Regions from separate parts of the Homo sapiens genome. Here region 2 is linked to region 1. A link means that fine-mapping ties the variant in region 1 to the expression of a gene that starts in the linked region. Tissue or cell type: whole blood. Region 1 holds a variant in brackets; the other region holds the start of a gene. All regions are shown on one strand. Distances are between the middles of the regions.

What was found. PIP is the estimated chance that this variant, and not a neighbour inherited with it, causes the effect.
Region 2: it holds the start of CCDC59, and the variant in region 1 is fine-mapped to the expression of CCDC59 in whole blood (INTERVAL, PIP above 0.99).

Annotation. Positions count from the first base shown.
Region 1 is chr12:81,780,507-81,788,617 of GRCh38, forward strand. No RefSeq gene overlaps it. Among named protein-coding and RNA genes, the nearest start is that of PPFIA2, 25 kb to the left of the region's middle. The variant C/A (reference allele first, on the strand shown) is at 4,681.
Region 2 is chr12:82,354,944-82,363,041 of GRCh38, forward strand. CCDC59 (coiled-coil domain containing 59) reads right to left here and starts at 3,444. Exons shown (of 4, transcript NM_014167.5): 1 at 3,280-3,444; 2 at 2,017-2,326. The coding sequence starts at 3,433. It overlaps METTL25 (methyltransferase like 25), which reads left to right and starts at 3,586. Exons shown (of 12, transcript NM_032230.3): 1 at 3,586-3,881. The coding sequence starts at 3,623. RefSeq lists enhancers at 3,253-3,813, 3,324-3,883, 3,814-4,374.

The sequences.
Region 1 (8,111 bases):
AATGAAAACTACAATGAGATATCATATACCAGTCAGAATGGCTACTAACAAAAAGTTTAAAAAATAGCAAATGCCTGTGAGGTTGCAGAGGAAAGGGAACACACACACTGCTGGTGGGAGTGTAAATTAGTTTGGTCACTGTGGAAAGCAATGTGGAGATTCCTCAAAAAAAACTTAGAACTACCATTCTACCCAGGAATCCCATTGCTGAGTATATATCCAAAGGAAAATACATCATTCTAACAAAAAGACACATGTGCTGATATGTTTGCTGCTGCACTATGCACAATAGCAAAGACATGGAATCAACCTAGATGCCCATCAACGGTGAACTGGATACAGAAAACTTGGCACATATACACCATGAAATACTATGCAGCCATAAAAAGCAATGAAATTATGTCTTTCGCAGTGACATGGATACAGCTGAAGGCCCTTATTTTAAGTGAACTAACACAGGAACAGAAAACCAAATACTGTTATCTTCTCACTCATACGTGGGAGCTAAACACTGAATACACATAGACACCAAGATGGAAACAACAGACACTGGGAACTACTTGAGTGGGGAGGGTGGAACAAGGCATGGGTTGAAAAACCACCTATCAGGTACTATGCTCACTACTGGGGTGACAGGATTATTCATGTGCCTCAGAGACACACAATCTCAGAGACACACAATTTACCCACATGAAAAATCTGCACACCTACCCCAAACTTAAAATAAATGTCAAAAGAAAAAAAATAAGAAAATATAGATGATCTAGGAAAAGGTTTTGCTTAAAAGCTAATTGGTATGAAATGTTTAATATAAACATTACCCAAATGACAAGAATTTGTGAGAACATTTAGCTTGCAAAGAGCAAATTAAGTTATGAAAACTACAACACAAATGTTATCTTGCTGCTTCACTTTTTACCATGTCTTATGAAACCTTTTCAAAGGACTTTAAAATAAACATGTTAGAAATAAAAAAAGAGAGAAAACCAAACTTTACCCTTGGTAAAATTTATTAATTTAACATTTATTAATGTTAAAGCTTATCTTAATAAAACCTTATTGTAAAATATCCTTGCTTTTGATTCAGCTTGAATCTTTGATATTTTTCCCATTGGTTTGCCTTCTTTATTGTCTTTGTACATAGCAACCTGACAATATCTACCACAGATATATAAATTGCAGGTCCATTGATTGCAGCTATCCTTTTTATACCACATTTTAGGGACCATATTATTTTAACAATAAATATTCTAACCTTAAATATCTATCACAGATATATAAATTACAGGTCCATTGATTGTAGCTATCCCTTTTATACCGCATTTTAGCAATAAATTATCATCAAGGAATTCAAGCGAAGTGATCTCTGCCCCTGACTAGCAATAATAGTTGTAATAGTTGTAATCACAATATTTAAGCACCAGTACTGACAGTTTGCCCTAATGTGTCATCATGTAATTCATTCTTCAAAATAAACAATGCTTCAAATTAGAGGTATTGCTTTGGTATAGGAATCTATATTACCTTTTGTAAATAAAAAAAATATTTTTAAACCCATACTCACATAAAGTTCAGCTATCTTCGTTTTGTATTATATTCTATCATTTCACATTCAAATTATCTTGATATCAAAAAGTCCTGCTGTTTTGCCTTTCCCCACTAGAATAGGGAACTAACAATAGAAATGTTCAATGATAAAACCATGGTTACATTAGAAGAAGTTTTTTATGCGTTAGTCAGAGATTCTATTAATTTGTGTTATGTCCTTCGTTCAAAGCATATTCCAGTATTTTAAAGGAGCCGCTAATCTTGGGGTAGAAATAATAAGTGAGAGGGTTTCAGAATATCAACTACTTATATTAAACAATATTGGAGCTTCCTAAGTAAAATAGAAATAAATAAAATATACTCTTTCATTTAACACATGTAAAATAGTAGCTTCCCAAGTAAAACTTATCACTTCAGTCTGATAGCACAAAAGAAAAACATTTCTCACAAATACAGAGAAATCTTTCTTCATATTCATAAGAAAATAAACAGTTTAAAAATACCAAAACCTTATATTTTCTAAACATAAAGCACATTTAGTAATTTTATTTGATGATATAAGTTTCAGACTTTTGACATTGCTCATTAGCTACAAGGAAGAGTTATATTATTTATGTACGAAATTCAACTAAAAATAGTTGTAAATGTATATACTATTTTAGTTATATGTATATAAATAAATGAATTGAAATTTAATGAGATATAGATAGGTATATTCATATGCATAATAGAAGATAGATACATAGAAATAGATATGGACACATATTTTATTTTGAAGGTAATGTATTGGATTTTAAAAAACAATGGCTTAATGTGTAGCGTTCCTTGACATCAGAGAGAATTGTGTAGATAGGCCTGTTTTACAGGAAATGAAAATCATCTGCCCACTCTAACCTTAGTGGCCCAGCAGGGAGTGGGGAGAGCAGAGAACCCTAGCTCATCTTCCTCTTCCACTCAACAAGAGGGCAGAGGTCAAGAAAACTTATGGGTCCAGAGGTCAAGAAATCTTATTTACAAGTCTAGGTAGCACAAAACTTGGTGGAGAGAGACGGGAGTGGATCTGGAGAGGCAAACTGACATCAAAAAATTCTCCTTATACCACATCTTTTTAAAAACTTGAAGAATATTAATTATATTTTAAAACCTTAATTTTTAAAGTAGTTTCTTATGAATGGTCATTAACTTGTTTTTGGTGTTAACAAAGGTCCATGAGATCTGTGGAAGGAAAAGGGAGAGCTTTATTTTCCATTAAAAAAAAATCTGCAGACTGGGGAGACAGAGCCTTCAGCACAAGTGAAAATGTAAATGAACAAAGAAAGGATCTGGCTTAAATAGGAAAAGTTCTCACCTAAGTACTTTACCAGGTTCATTTATGCAAATGAAGGATTCAAACCTTTCAATTCTGATTGGTCAAAATAGTTAAGCCCTAATTGAGTTGTTTCTAAGCCCCAAACCAGAAGTTTCTGTCAGGTACTTATTTCAAATGGTCAGTGAGGTGTGTTTCTGGCCTGAGTTTATCTTGTCTCTGGTTACAAGAACTCTTCTGACTCTGCAAGGTAAAGCAGAATGTTTGTCAAGAGCCGCTTTTGCTAGGAACCCAAGTATATGCCAGGACTCTATCTCTTCCTGCTCTGCTACCTGTTTATGCTTTTAAATTTAGAGCATCTTTATTAGCCACAGGGAGTCTCTCTGATCTGGGGAGGTTTGGGTCTTATTTTACAGTTTTATTTCACATTAGTTTGACTATTGTAAGTACTGGCTACCTGTATGCATCTGTTCTTCCTCACTTGTCTATGTAATAGATTTCTACAAGCAGGATTTCTAGTTAAAAAAAAATAGTTTCGACTGGGTGCAGTGGCTCACGCCTGTAATCCCAGCACTTTGGGAGGCTGAGGAGGGCAGATCACTTGAGGTCAGGAGTTCAAAACCCAGCCTGGCCAATATGGTGAAATCCTGTCTCTTGCTAAAAGATACAAAATTAGCCGGGCATGGTGGTGCAGGCCTGTAGTCCCAGCTACTTGGGAGGCTGAGGCAGGAGAATCGCCTGAACCTGGGAGGCAGAGGTTGCAGTGAGCTGAGATCACACCACTGCATGCCAGCCTGGGTGACAGAGTGAGACTCCGTCTCAAAAAAAGAAAAAGAAAAAAAAAAAGAAATAGTTTCAATATTTGCTGCCTTATCGATTACCAAAGGTGTTCAATCTTGTTATATTAAAACCAAATATTTGAGAGTTTCTGTTTTACTTAGCAGTTGTCCACACTGATGTTTTCAACTTTTTTCAATGTGTCATTTAACATAACTATATATTCATAGATTTATTGGTTATTGGCATGTCATTTTCTTATGTTAATCATTAGATAAGTCTTTTCACAGACTTGTATCACTTTATTTTCTTTTTGTATTACATAAACATATAATGTATTTTTTTAATTTTATAAAAGTAGGATCATATTATATTATTATTCTACAATTCTGACTTATTTGCACAATAACCTGTCTTGTTCTTCTGCCCATATTAAGATGTATGGATTTCCCATATTCTTTCTATATATTAAATGATATCCCAATATATTGTATCAAGAACAAAGCCATTAAATCTATTTTGTGTAACACATTAAATATATTTAATGACTTTGTTCTGGATAGAATATATTGGAGTATTATTTATGCAAATCATTATTTGCATAAATTTCAATATATATTTGGGATTTATGCAAATGAAGGATTCAAACTTATTCAGTTCTGATTGGTCAAAATAGTATAGAAACAAAACATATATGTAACAAAATAATGCCTCCATTCTTGCTAGGATATAGAACATTTTCAGTTATAAACAATCCCGAAATAGTCATTTTTACACATATATCTGTTTTACAGTGTTTGAATTTTTCCATCGAGTTATTAGTCTCTTTCTTAATTTGTATGAGAGTTTTGGCATAATAAGGAAGCTGACCCTCATCTGTCTTATGTATTGCATATATTTTTATTTGTTTGTTATTTGCCTTTTGCCTTTTTCCAGAGTATTTTAAGTTGTTATGTAAATATATTTATCAGTCTTTACTTGAGGGTTCCTGTATTTTATGTCACGCTTATCAAAAACCTACCCATCATTTTGTGTAGTTCTTTTCCCAG[C/A]TTTTCCCAGTAGTTTTCTTGTAGGCATGTGCTGATGAGTATTCTCTTGAATACTCCAGGGGAATCCACCGTAGAACCCTCTCCTGTCGGGTGTCTGACCTGCCGGACTCCATCCACCTCAACTTAGGGAACATGCCAGGCTCTACTTAGTACCCTGTCTTTGTGCAGCACAGCGCAAAAACTCTATCAAGGCAATAAGTTGGGGAAGAACGTATCTTATTTATCTCACAACTTTTAGGGATCTTTGTGCTTCCTTGATTAATGTCCAGTGTTTTGAATACCATTGTTTTATAGATTTTGTATGTTTATTTTTTAGTGGTTAGGGTGGGAAGGTACATCTAGTCTCATAACTTCATCTTGACCAGAGCAGAAATCTACATGGATTTTTGACTTTGGTTATTATTTTATAGAGATTTGCTCATTTTGATGTTGATTTCCTCTCTGAACCAACAGATCTCAACCCCCTATGTTGTTGATTTTATACTTTACATGATTCTATTTATATTTTTATATATTTTATTACATATTAAAAATATATGCATATAAATATTCACACACACTCTGGTTGGAGTACAGATTTTGTACAATTATTTCTGTTTTTTTAAAAGTTTTTGAAAACTTTTCACAACTCAGTTATAGGCATTGTATATTTCACTTCCTGCAGTGAAATATGTGGGAAATCAGCAATGTAGACTCTGGAATCAAGCTTATCAAGGCATATTTTGAAGCTAGTACTTTGAAGAGATTTCCAAATATCATAGAGCTCTCTGAGCTTCATCCTTCTCCCCAAATTCTGTCTTTTCTACTCCAGTTCTTTGTTGTACTCTCAAATTTTCTTTATAGGTGGAGTTCTTTCCTGAAACTCTAACCACATGGCTGGTATCCAGACACTTTGTCTAGTATTTTCAGTTCTATTCTCCTAGAGTGGCTCCTGATCCCTGACACCAGCAGCTCTTTGTGCTGCAGGGAATTAGATGGCCCTAGGAGCCACAAAATGACCCTTGCCTGGTGTGTAAAGATTGCTATGGACCAGAAATTCCTGTTGACAAGCTCTGCCCTTTGGAAGCCATCACCATTCCCAGTCACTTTCGGTTCACAAGCACCCTTCATTCCTCATCTCCTCTTAGGATAGATGTTCTCCTCTATACCAATTAATTTTCCTGTATACTCCACACTCGAGTTCATCTAAGATAGGACATTTCTCTTAATATAGTGTAGAATGGAAGAATTAATTATTCTGTAACACAAGTTATACTATCTTTCGAGTTACTTTTTTGCCTTTACCTTTATTGTGTGAAAAGTCAGCACTGACAAACAAAAATATGCTTTGAGAATATTTGTTTTGTTTCACTACAAAAGCAATTATTTAGCTCTGTGCTAAGTCACTGAGTCATTCTGTAATTAGGATTTTCAAAACCAAATTAAATGTTTTTGAACCAAAAAAGGATCAGCTACAATTCATATGTTACATAGCACCTAGTCTATTATAAGGATAATAAAACCATCACGTTGGTTAATTAGCATTTTTATTAGAATATTCTACTTTAATTTTAAAGACATATTTGCTCACAAAAAGACTTTGGGGCTGGGATGTGTAGGTGTATCATTATAAAACTTTATGACAAATCAAAATAAAATTTTACAGTTTTATAAAACCCTTCTTTTATGTTTGCTCTCCTAATTGTCACAAGTTTTGATAAATAGAATCACTCTAGTGATCTAGAAAAATCAATAAAAATATATTTGCATAGGGCTTTACAGTTTACAAAGAGCTTGCTGCGCACATGGATAATTAGTATATAAGAAAAGGCCTAAAACAAAGAAAAATTATTCTCCTTTAGTTTTTGTCATTTTTTTGGAGTTATTTTTAGTAATTAAACTGAAATAACACATTAAAATATTTCAGTTTAATTAAAAGACATGTATAAATTCAAAAGCCATCTTTATTCTTAATATGTGTGCAGATATAGTATCTTTCACGTCCGTTATTTCACTGCATTAGAAAAATATTAGTTTCTGTGCACAATGTTTTTCACAACTATGAAGTGAACCATATTTTATGGTTATATCTATATAAGTATAAACATAAGTTAAATTATTGTGATTCTATCTAAAGGGAAGTAAACTCTTTCATTAAAAATGTTTGGACATATTAGGTAAATAATGCCTTTAAATAGAATGTATCACCAATAGTCATGGAGAATCGGATGGCTAGTCTATGAAATTTTTTCTCTTGTTAATGTACTGAAAGTTGTATCTCATTCAGTTTCACTTGAAGAAAAGACATGGACTAGTGTTTGTATTGTTACACAATGAGAAAGTCACAATTCTTTTTTTTTTTTTTTTTTTTAAGACAGGGTCTGTCTCCATCACCCAGGCTGGAGTGCAGTGGCTCAATCAGCTCACTGCAACCTTGGCTTCCCAGGTTCAAGCAATTCTCCTGCCCCAGCACAGGCAGGCATTTGCCACCATGCCTGTCTAATATGTCACATTTCTAAAATGGAATATAGAGGATTTTTTTGTTTTTAGGTTTTCACTAGAGTCATCACATTATGTACCTTAATAATAAAGAAACCTTGCCTTTATCTGCTGTGGCATATAAACATATTGACTTCAGTAGTAGGCATAAGTAATGGACAGACAGAATGACACAGTCAACTGTAGACAATAAAATAAACCTTTGTGGAGTTACACTGCTGTATAAAAGATGAAGTAATGACAGAATGAAATTAAAGTTTTTAAACAGATTATTTTTTCATTTCATATCTATATATCCAGTTTTATGGGTTTTCAAATATAAAACAAATTCAAGCTAAATTGACTTTCAAAAGTTCTCATTCAGAAACTGTAAAAATTGTTAGAATATTAGATTCTATAAAAATACTTGGGTGCAAATTTTATAGAGATTCAGAATTATAAATGAAAGCTTATTATTTTGTGCCAGAATTGTATTTATCTGAACACTTTAATAACATCTTGGTTACAGGTTCCATGAATATTTTGCATCTCCAACAATGATCACTTAAATTCCACTTGAAAATTCTAACCTAATTATAGCAGCATTTCATAAAACTTAAAACCCATTACTACGATGATCAACTTTTCATTTATTTAATGCATTTTGTAATGAAATTCCCTTCAAATTACTGAAGGTTTGCCTTCATAACTTATTATTTTATCCCCTCTTAATAAGTTTTCTTTTCTGTTGTTTCTCATTCACTTTAGCTTGCTTCACACATGTATAAATGTATTCTTTACAGAGTATTTACAATTGAGTATCACATCAGCTTCACATATATGCCGGTTCTCTGGAGCTCTTTTCCTGTTTTGTTGATTTTTCTCAACCTCTATTTTTATTATCAACCTCTCCTCTTCTTTTGACTCATTATTACAAATATGTAAACGTACTCAAGTCTTATCCATCTTTTTAA
Region 2 (8,098 bases), 570 kb after region 1:
CATGAATCACCATACCTTGGATCTAGATACCATTTTGAACTGTTCTATCTTTAACTACTTCTCACCTCTCTGAAGATGTCCTTTTTGTCAAGGCTAATCCAACTACTTGGAATTCCATTCATTTCCTCAGCATCCTTGATTCAGTAATAACTTTACTTTCCTCTATCATTCAACTTTTCACTATACTCTGTAACTACAATATAATATTTTAATAGCTACTAATCACTAGCGACTTTGGACTAGTGACTAGTGACTGCCTAGTCCACAAATCCAGAGACCTGTCCTCAGTCCTATTCACCTTCAACTTTATAGTACAGTAGCACACCCCTTATCCATGGTTTCCCTGTTCCACGGTTTCAGTTACCTGCAGTCAACAGAGGTCCAAAAATATTAAATTGAAAAATTCCAGAAATAAACAATTCATATGTTTTAAATTGTACACCACACTGAGTGTTTGCTTTAAGTGAAAAGGTAAAAGTTCTTGACTTAATAAGGAAGGAAAAAAAATCGTATGTTGAAGTTGCTAAGATCTATGGTTTTAAAAAAAATCTTCTATACATCAAATTGTGAAGGAAAAATAAATTCATGCTAGTTTTGCTGTCATACTTCAAACTGCAAAAGTTATGGCCACAGTACGTGATTTAAGATGGAAAAGGCATTAAATTCCCAAGTAAAAGACATTAACAGAAATACATTCCAATTGACAGAAACTGGGTTTGGTACCATTTGCAGTTTCAGGGCATCCACTGGGGGTCTTGGAACATCTTCCAAACAGATAACGGGGGACCACAATATTTGATAGCTGACTAATCCCTCACAACTTTTCTCTGTGGACTGAGCTGTCACTGTATTTCTCTTTCTCCAGTCCTGAAAAGCTTAACTTCCTCAATGACAATATTTTCCCTGTTTCCACCCCAAAATAAACCGTAATCTTTAAAAGCATGATTTTTTACCTTCCTTTCTCATGATTTAAACTTCCTTACTTCAATTATCAGAGAATAACTCAAATCTACATTTCTACTGCTAATCTTTTCCCTGAACTTTATACTGATTATTTAACAATATAATGATCAAGCCTACCAAAAGTAGTAAACTTTTTGTGTCTCTGCCTTCATCCCCAATTACATTTTTACCCCCCGTGGTCCCATTTCCTGTTATTTTTAGCGCAAATAGCTCACGACTTTAAAAGATACGGTTTTAATGAAGTAAAAAATTATGCTCCCAAGTTAATACCCAGCTTCTTGCAATTTTAGATTTTAGCATTGTTTTTTAACTTTAAGTATGCAGCGATAGTTTTTTATAAGTTAACTCTTATAAAACCAAAGCGTCACGGAGCTGTGCATTTGCAATTGCAACCCATTTCTGGTCCTCTGCAGAAAATCCAGATTAATAGTAGTAGCTAACGCTCAAGAGCACTAACCACGTACCATATATACCCTTTAAGATCCTCATATACATTAACTCGCTGAGTCTTCACAACAATGTCATGAAACACCTTAGGAACACCTGAGTTTATGTGAGTAATCCATTCTGGAGCTGTGCAACATGGCAGCTCTGAAGTATATATTCATTACAGTATTATCTTTCCCAATTTAAAGAGGACATAGTGTTATTTTTCCCATTTTAAAGAAGAGGTCACTGGGGCACTAACATGTTGAGTCTGGCTCTAGAACCCATACTGTTAATGACTAAAATTATAACACCTCTCAGAAGTTATTTTTCAAAAATATAGTCATAACATATGGTCCAATCAAGTTACCACCTGTACTTGAGAGGAAGAAACCCAAATTCCAGAGCTCTTAATTCCCATTACGTTACTTTGTCAATTAGGCTAAACCAGCCTAATTCAGTTATTGAAGCTAAAAATAGAGCCTCCATGAAAATGTTTCCCTAATTAAACCGTGACTTCTAAAATGTGTTAAATAAGAAAAAATACAATTCCTATATAAATTATCCTATAGTACTTTTAAATAATAAAACAACACTTAAAGGATTTCAAATGAAGAAAATACATACTTTACTGTTTTAATACATTGTTCTTCTGGCTGAGGCTGGTCAAAGCTACACTGATCTTCAAATAAAGGCTCGTCAATGCTACACTGTTCTTCAAGCAACGGCTGGTGAACTTGTTCTGACAAAGGATGGTCGACTTTTCTTGCTTGCTTCCTATGTCTTTCCTCTTCAGCTAAATAGAGATGTTTCAGATTATCTGGGTATCGATCTGTGAATTGAGATTCCAGTGACGTTTGAGCCTTCTTTTCCTTCCGTAGCAATTTCTTGTAACTTTGCTGTATTTTCAGTTTTCTTCGAAAAGCAAAGCCTTGTCCTACATTGAGGAATATCATCCAAAATTACTTTCAGAGAAAAGAAGTTGAACGAAGAATGGAGCTGTTAATTACAAATGAAAACTTTTTTTACGTCATCACATTCAGATTCTAGTATTATATTTTGCTTTAAAAAATTATTTCAAGCAACAAATTTAAGCTGATGGATTGCATAGTAAGTTGGCCCTTTGCAAAAAGACCAGGCTAACAGTCATGCGGAAATCCAAGTAAGAATCTCAAAGAAAAACTGACCAGTTCAGACTGTTGCACAACTTGAGTTTACAGCTGTATTCACAAATCAAAACAAATTCCTTAGTTCATCTAAAACACTTAATCTGAGCCTTCAATAAATGCTTAAAAAATAGGAAAGAAAATGCCACATCTAGTATCTTGGACAAACTACATGTTTTCGAAAATGTTTCAACACGAAAGAAAAAGACAGTGTATGGTTGTCTGAAAAGCTAGCAATTATCGGAAGACTGAATTTAACATTTATATATTCCAAGTGGGATCTAAGAGACCTTACAGACAGCAATACAAAATGACAAACACAAATTAAAGCGAAGGCTGGAGGGCCTCGGGTATTTGTAATAAGGAAGAATTCGGAGCAGTGTTTCTGGCCCTGTCCTCCTCTCTATCCTTTACCTTACCACATGCGCAAGAGTTCACAGGGTCATAGACTCTCTCTGCTCAGTTTCTCAGGAAAAATATAGGAAAAAAGTTCTGATGAAATACAGGGTTACGTCAGAAAAGACGTTTAAATAATAGCAACACTGCTCCGTCTTCCTATCTAGAGCTCTGCGAAGCTCACAGCTTTAGCGGGCTCAGGAATGAATTCCCTTGCCCCAAGTAGGACCGGGTCTGGTTCCTAAATCCTTCTTCCAAGCTTCAGCGAATCTTATATCCTAAAACTTAGCAAGCCTGAGGATTTGCAAATGGTTGCCTTCTTACATACCCTCGCGAACGCTCCCCACGAAGGCTTGCGGGTGGTTAGGCCGCCATGTCTTCTGTCTCACATTCTTATTCCTGTACCCGACAGTGGAAACCCCTTCACCACGCGCCTCAATACCACCAGGCCGCCACTTCGCGGACCGCCTCACCGGCGCCATTGCAGCCGACTAACTGCGTCATCAGAAGACCACGACGGACGCCCACAAAATACGTCACCAAGCCGAAGCAATCAATCGCTCAGAAGGAATCCGGCTCGGAGCTCTACTGAGCCTGCCTGTGCTAATTTGGGCCGAGCTGGCGCCTCACGGCCATGTTTGCGCCACCTACAGCCTCGGAGGGTGAGCGTCATGGCGGCTTCTTGCCCTCTCCCGGTGACCCCGGACCTGCCCACGCTGCGTGCCAAGTTGCAGGGACTGCTGCAGTTCCTGAGGGATGCCCTGTCCATTTCCAATGCACATACCGTGGATTTCTACACAGAATCCGTGTGGGAGGAGCTGGTCGACTTGCCACCGGAGACAGTGCTGGCTGCGCTGAGGAAGTCAGCGTCGGAGACGGAGGCCCTGCCCTCAGAGACGCGCCCCCTAGTGGAAGCAGAGTGGGAAGCAGGTGGGTGGTGGGGTAGGCGGGGCGGGAAGGGAGGCGGAGGAGAAGGTCCCGGCAGACGAAGCGAGCCCCCTGGTGGAAGCCAGCAGAACCAGGTGCGTGGCGGCGGAGGCGGGGCGGCCCGCTGGGAAACCGAGGAGGGGTCGGATTAGTTGAGGGGTGGGGTGGGGATGTTCTTTGGAATCAGGATCACTCTTTCTTTGGGTGCTTGTGTATGTCCACAATTTAAAGAAAGCAGGAAACAGGGCAGGGGAGTTCCTTCATCTAGTAATTCCATAATAATTGACGCTAGGGAAACTAGGGGAGCAGTGCTCTCACAGGTTTTATAAATGCCAGCATGTGGTGGAAGATTACTCAACAGTTAATAAAGATAATTTCAAGTGGTGGTAATGAAGTAGAAAATAAAAACAGTGTAATGTGGTAGGGATTGTGTAAGGAGGCTGCCTCAATTTAGGAGGTCAGGAACATGAGAAGGCACTAGCTGCAGAGCCACAGGGAGGGGTTGCAGGCGGTGGGAACCGCAGGCTAGGCTTGGCTCTAGCCAGGTGAGGGGCTGCAGGTGCAGGACGGGAGGCAAGCAGAGGCCAGATGGCACAGGCCTTTCTAGGCCTTGGAAGGATTTTGGATTTTAAGTGTGACGGAAACCCTTGGGATTATTTAGGCAACATAGTGACCTAATTCACATTTGAAAAGATAACTGTGAATTATTTGAAGAATAGACTAGGGCAAAAGCTGAAGCTGAGAGGCCAGTTAGGAGACTACCTCAGTAGTACAACAGATGATTGTATCTTGGACTAGGATGGTATTCGGATAGTCACTATTTCATTTAAAAACTATTTTAAAGTACCTAATATGTGTCTTGAATTTTTGTAGGCTCAAGCTTTTCCTACCCTCAAGAAATGTAGATTCTTCTCAGGCAAGCATATTTTGGAAGTAGAATGATGGACACCAACAGGCTTCTGGGATTTTTACTTTCCTTCTAGACTTCCCAAAGTTACCCTTACTAGTGAACTTTATTCATTGAGCATTCTCTGAATGCAAAGCATCACTAGAGGGACCTCTTATAATAGCACTTGGTAAATACTGTTGTTGTTTTTTTAAGTAATTGTTATTGAAAAGTTAGGCACTTCTTCAGTTTGCTCTCATAATAAATATATGGCACTTATGATATGACAATTTTACTTAAACTCCAAAAGAGCAGAGTCTTTGTCTGACTTGTCAACTGATGTATTCCCAGCACTTGGTAAAATACTTGGCATACATTAGATACTGGATGAATATTTGTTGAATGGAGGAATTAATGAGTTACTCATGTTAGTTTTAAATAAATAAAATGAAACTACTCTCAAGTTTAGAGTGTAAGACTTTAATACGTGTTTAGCCTGGTCTCCAGACAATGGTAGAGTCAGATTGTCTTACATATTCTAATAATAATTGGATTATTTGATATTTACTATATACCCTGTAGTGTGCTAAGTGTCTTCATGTGTATTTTCTCTTTTAATCTTTACATCAGCCTTGCAAGATAGGTTCTGTTATTGTCGATTTGTGGAATTATAACTTGAGGAGTTAATTTGCAAGGGATATAGCTGATAATGGAAGATTCTCAAACCTGGGTCATCTGATTTGAAACTTTTTTAGTGCTGTAAGAAAAAAAGTATACTAGATAAGGGAGGAGTAAGTAAGGGGAAGAAGAGGAAAATGTTTGCATTTTTAAGTAAGTTGTCCTGGCAAGACCTCACTGAGGTGACTCTAACGCTGAAAAGATAAGAAAAAAACCGAGCCATGAAGATCTCTGGAGGGAAAGCAGTCCATTTAGTGACAACAGGAAACAGAAATGCCCTGACGAGGGAGCCTACAAGGTATGTTTAAGGAGCTGTAAGGAGACTGAAATAGATTTCCACTAGGGACTCACAAGGAGTATGGTCTTGTGTCCGGAATTGTTAGGTTCTTGGTCTCACTGACTTCAAGAATGAAGCCACAGACCCTCTCAGTGAGTATTATAGTTCTTAAAGGCGGCGTGTCCAGAGTTTGTTCCTTCTGATGTTTGGATGTGTTCGGAGTTTCTTCCTTCTGGCGGGTTCGTGGTCTCGCTGGCTTCAGGAGTGAAGCTGCAGACCTTTGCGGTGAGTGTTACAGCTCACAAACGCAGTGTGGACCCAAAGAGAGAGCAGCAGCAAGATTTATCACAAGGAGTGAAAGAACAAAGCTTCCACAGGGTTGTCGCTGCTGGCGCCAGCAGTCTGCTTTTATTCTCTTATCTGACCCCACCCACATCCTGCCGATTGGTCCATTTTACAGAGAGCTGATTGGTCCATTTTGACAGGGTGCTGATTGGTGCATTTACAATCCCTGAGCTAGACATGAAAGTTCTCCTAGTCCCCACTAGATCAGCTATACACAGAGCACTGATTGGTGCATTTACAAACCTTGAGCTAGACACAGGGTGCTGATTGGTGTATTTACAATCCCTTAGCTAGACATAAAGTTTATCCAAGTCCCCACTAGACTCAGGAGCCCAGCTGGCTTCACCTAGTGGATCCCACGTTGGGGCTGCAGGTGGAGCTGCCCACCAGTCCCATGCCGTGCGCCCGCACTCCTCAGCCCTTGGGCGGTCGATGGGACCAGGCACTGTGAAGCAGGAGGCGGTGCTCGTTGGGGAGGCTTGGGCTACGCAGGAGCCCACGGTGGGGGGGAGGGGGACTCAGGCATGGCGGGCTGCAGGTCTTGAGCCCTGCCCCGCAGGGAGGCAGCTGAGGCCCGGTGAGAATTCAAGAGCAGCGCTGGTGGGCCGGCACTGCTGGGGGACTTGGTGCATCCTCCGCAGCTGCTGTCCTGGGTGCTAAGCTCCTCACTGCCTGGGGCCAGCGGTGCTGGCCGGCTGCTCTGAGTGCTGGGCCTGCCAAGCCCACAACCACCCGGAACTCGCGCTGGCCAGCAAGCGTGGCGCGCAGCCCTGGTTCCCACCCGTGCCTCTCCCTCCACACCTCCCTGCAAGCTGAGAGAGCCAGCTCCAGCCTCGGCCAGCCTAGAGAAGGGCTCCCACAGTGCAGTGGTGGGCTGAAGGACTCCTCAAGCGTGGCCAGAGTGGGCGCCAAGGCTGAGGAGGCGCCAAGAGCGAGTGAGGGCTGCCGGCACGCTGTCACCTCTCAGTCTTCTGCTGATATTTTGTGAGGAGTTACAAGTAAACATAATTCCCAGAGCGCAATGCACAGTTTGGAAAAGCACACTAACAGATGTTCGGCACAATCATTTGGTGTTTTATGGAACAAAGTTTTTTCTAAAAGTCCTCAGTGTGTCCATTTCAGTAGGTTTCATGTGCCAGGTGATCTTCTTGTCTCATTAGAGTCCTAAGAGTTTCTTCTTCATTGTTCGTCTAAAAAGAACTAGAATAAAATATTTAATTCTCTAAAATAAAAAGCAAATATGTTAGAAATAACTATCTTTTCAGTGCATAAATTATGGCTTTCCAGACAGACTTCCTGGGGTCAAATATTGACTCCAGCACTTAGTAGCTGTGCTAACTTGGGCAATTTACTTCAACTCGTTGTACATTAGTTCCTCATCTGTAAAATGGGGGTAACTTTAGTACCTGCCTGATGGGATACTGTGAAAGGTAATTCAGCTAATATATAGAAAGGGATATCTTTCACGTGAAGTGAACAGCAGGTGCCCAAGCTGGAGCACGCTTGGTGCATTTTAAACACAGCTGAGCAGTCTTGGTGAGACCGGTGAGAGATGGCATTTGGAGGTAGCCCAGGACATCCTCACATAAAACTTGTAGGCTGTACTCAGTATTTGGCTTTTATTCTGAGTGAAATGCGAAGCTCTTTGAGAATTTTGTGTGGTGATGTGATACCGTGTGATTTATGTTTCAAATCACCTGGTTTCTGTGTGGAGAAGAGAAGGTAAGAAAGGTGAAGGAAATTAAGGGAAGAAACAGGAATACAATATAAGAGGCTATTAAAATAGTCCAGGGACATTTCAAGGAACAGTAGCTTGAAGAGGTCAGATTCCCCTGCAGATAACAATGATGAAAACTGGCCAGATTATTAAAAACAACTGTAAGATTCTGGAAAATGCCAAAGGCAGAAATATAAGAAGAGGTTACTATTGAAAGACTGTGATTGATTGGGTAGGAAGTCAGAGTTTATGGCTTTCTTGCTAGAGATGCTCCTAGCCCCTGTAGATCTAGCAGTGGAATACCACATCCTTACCAG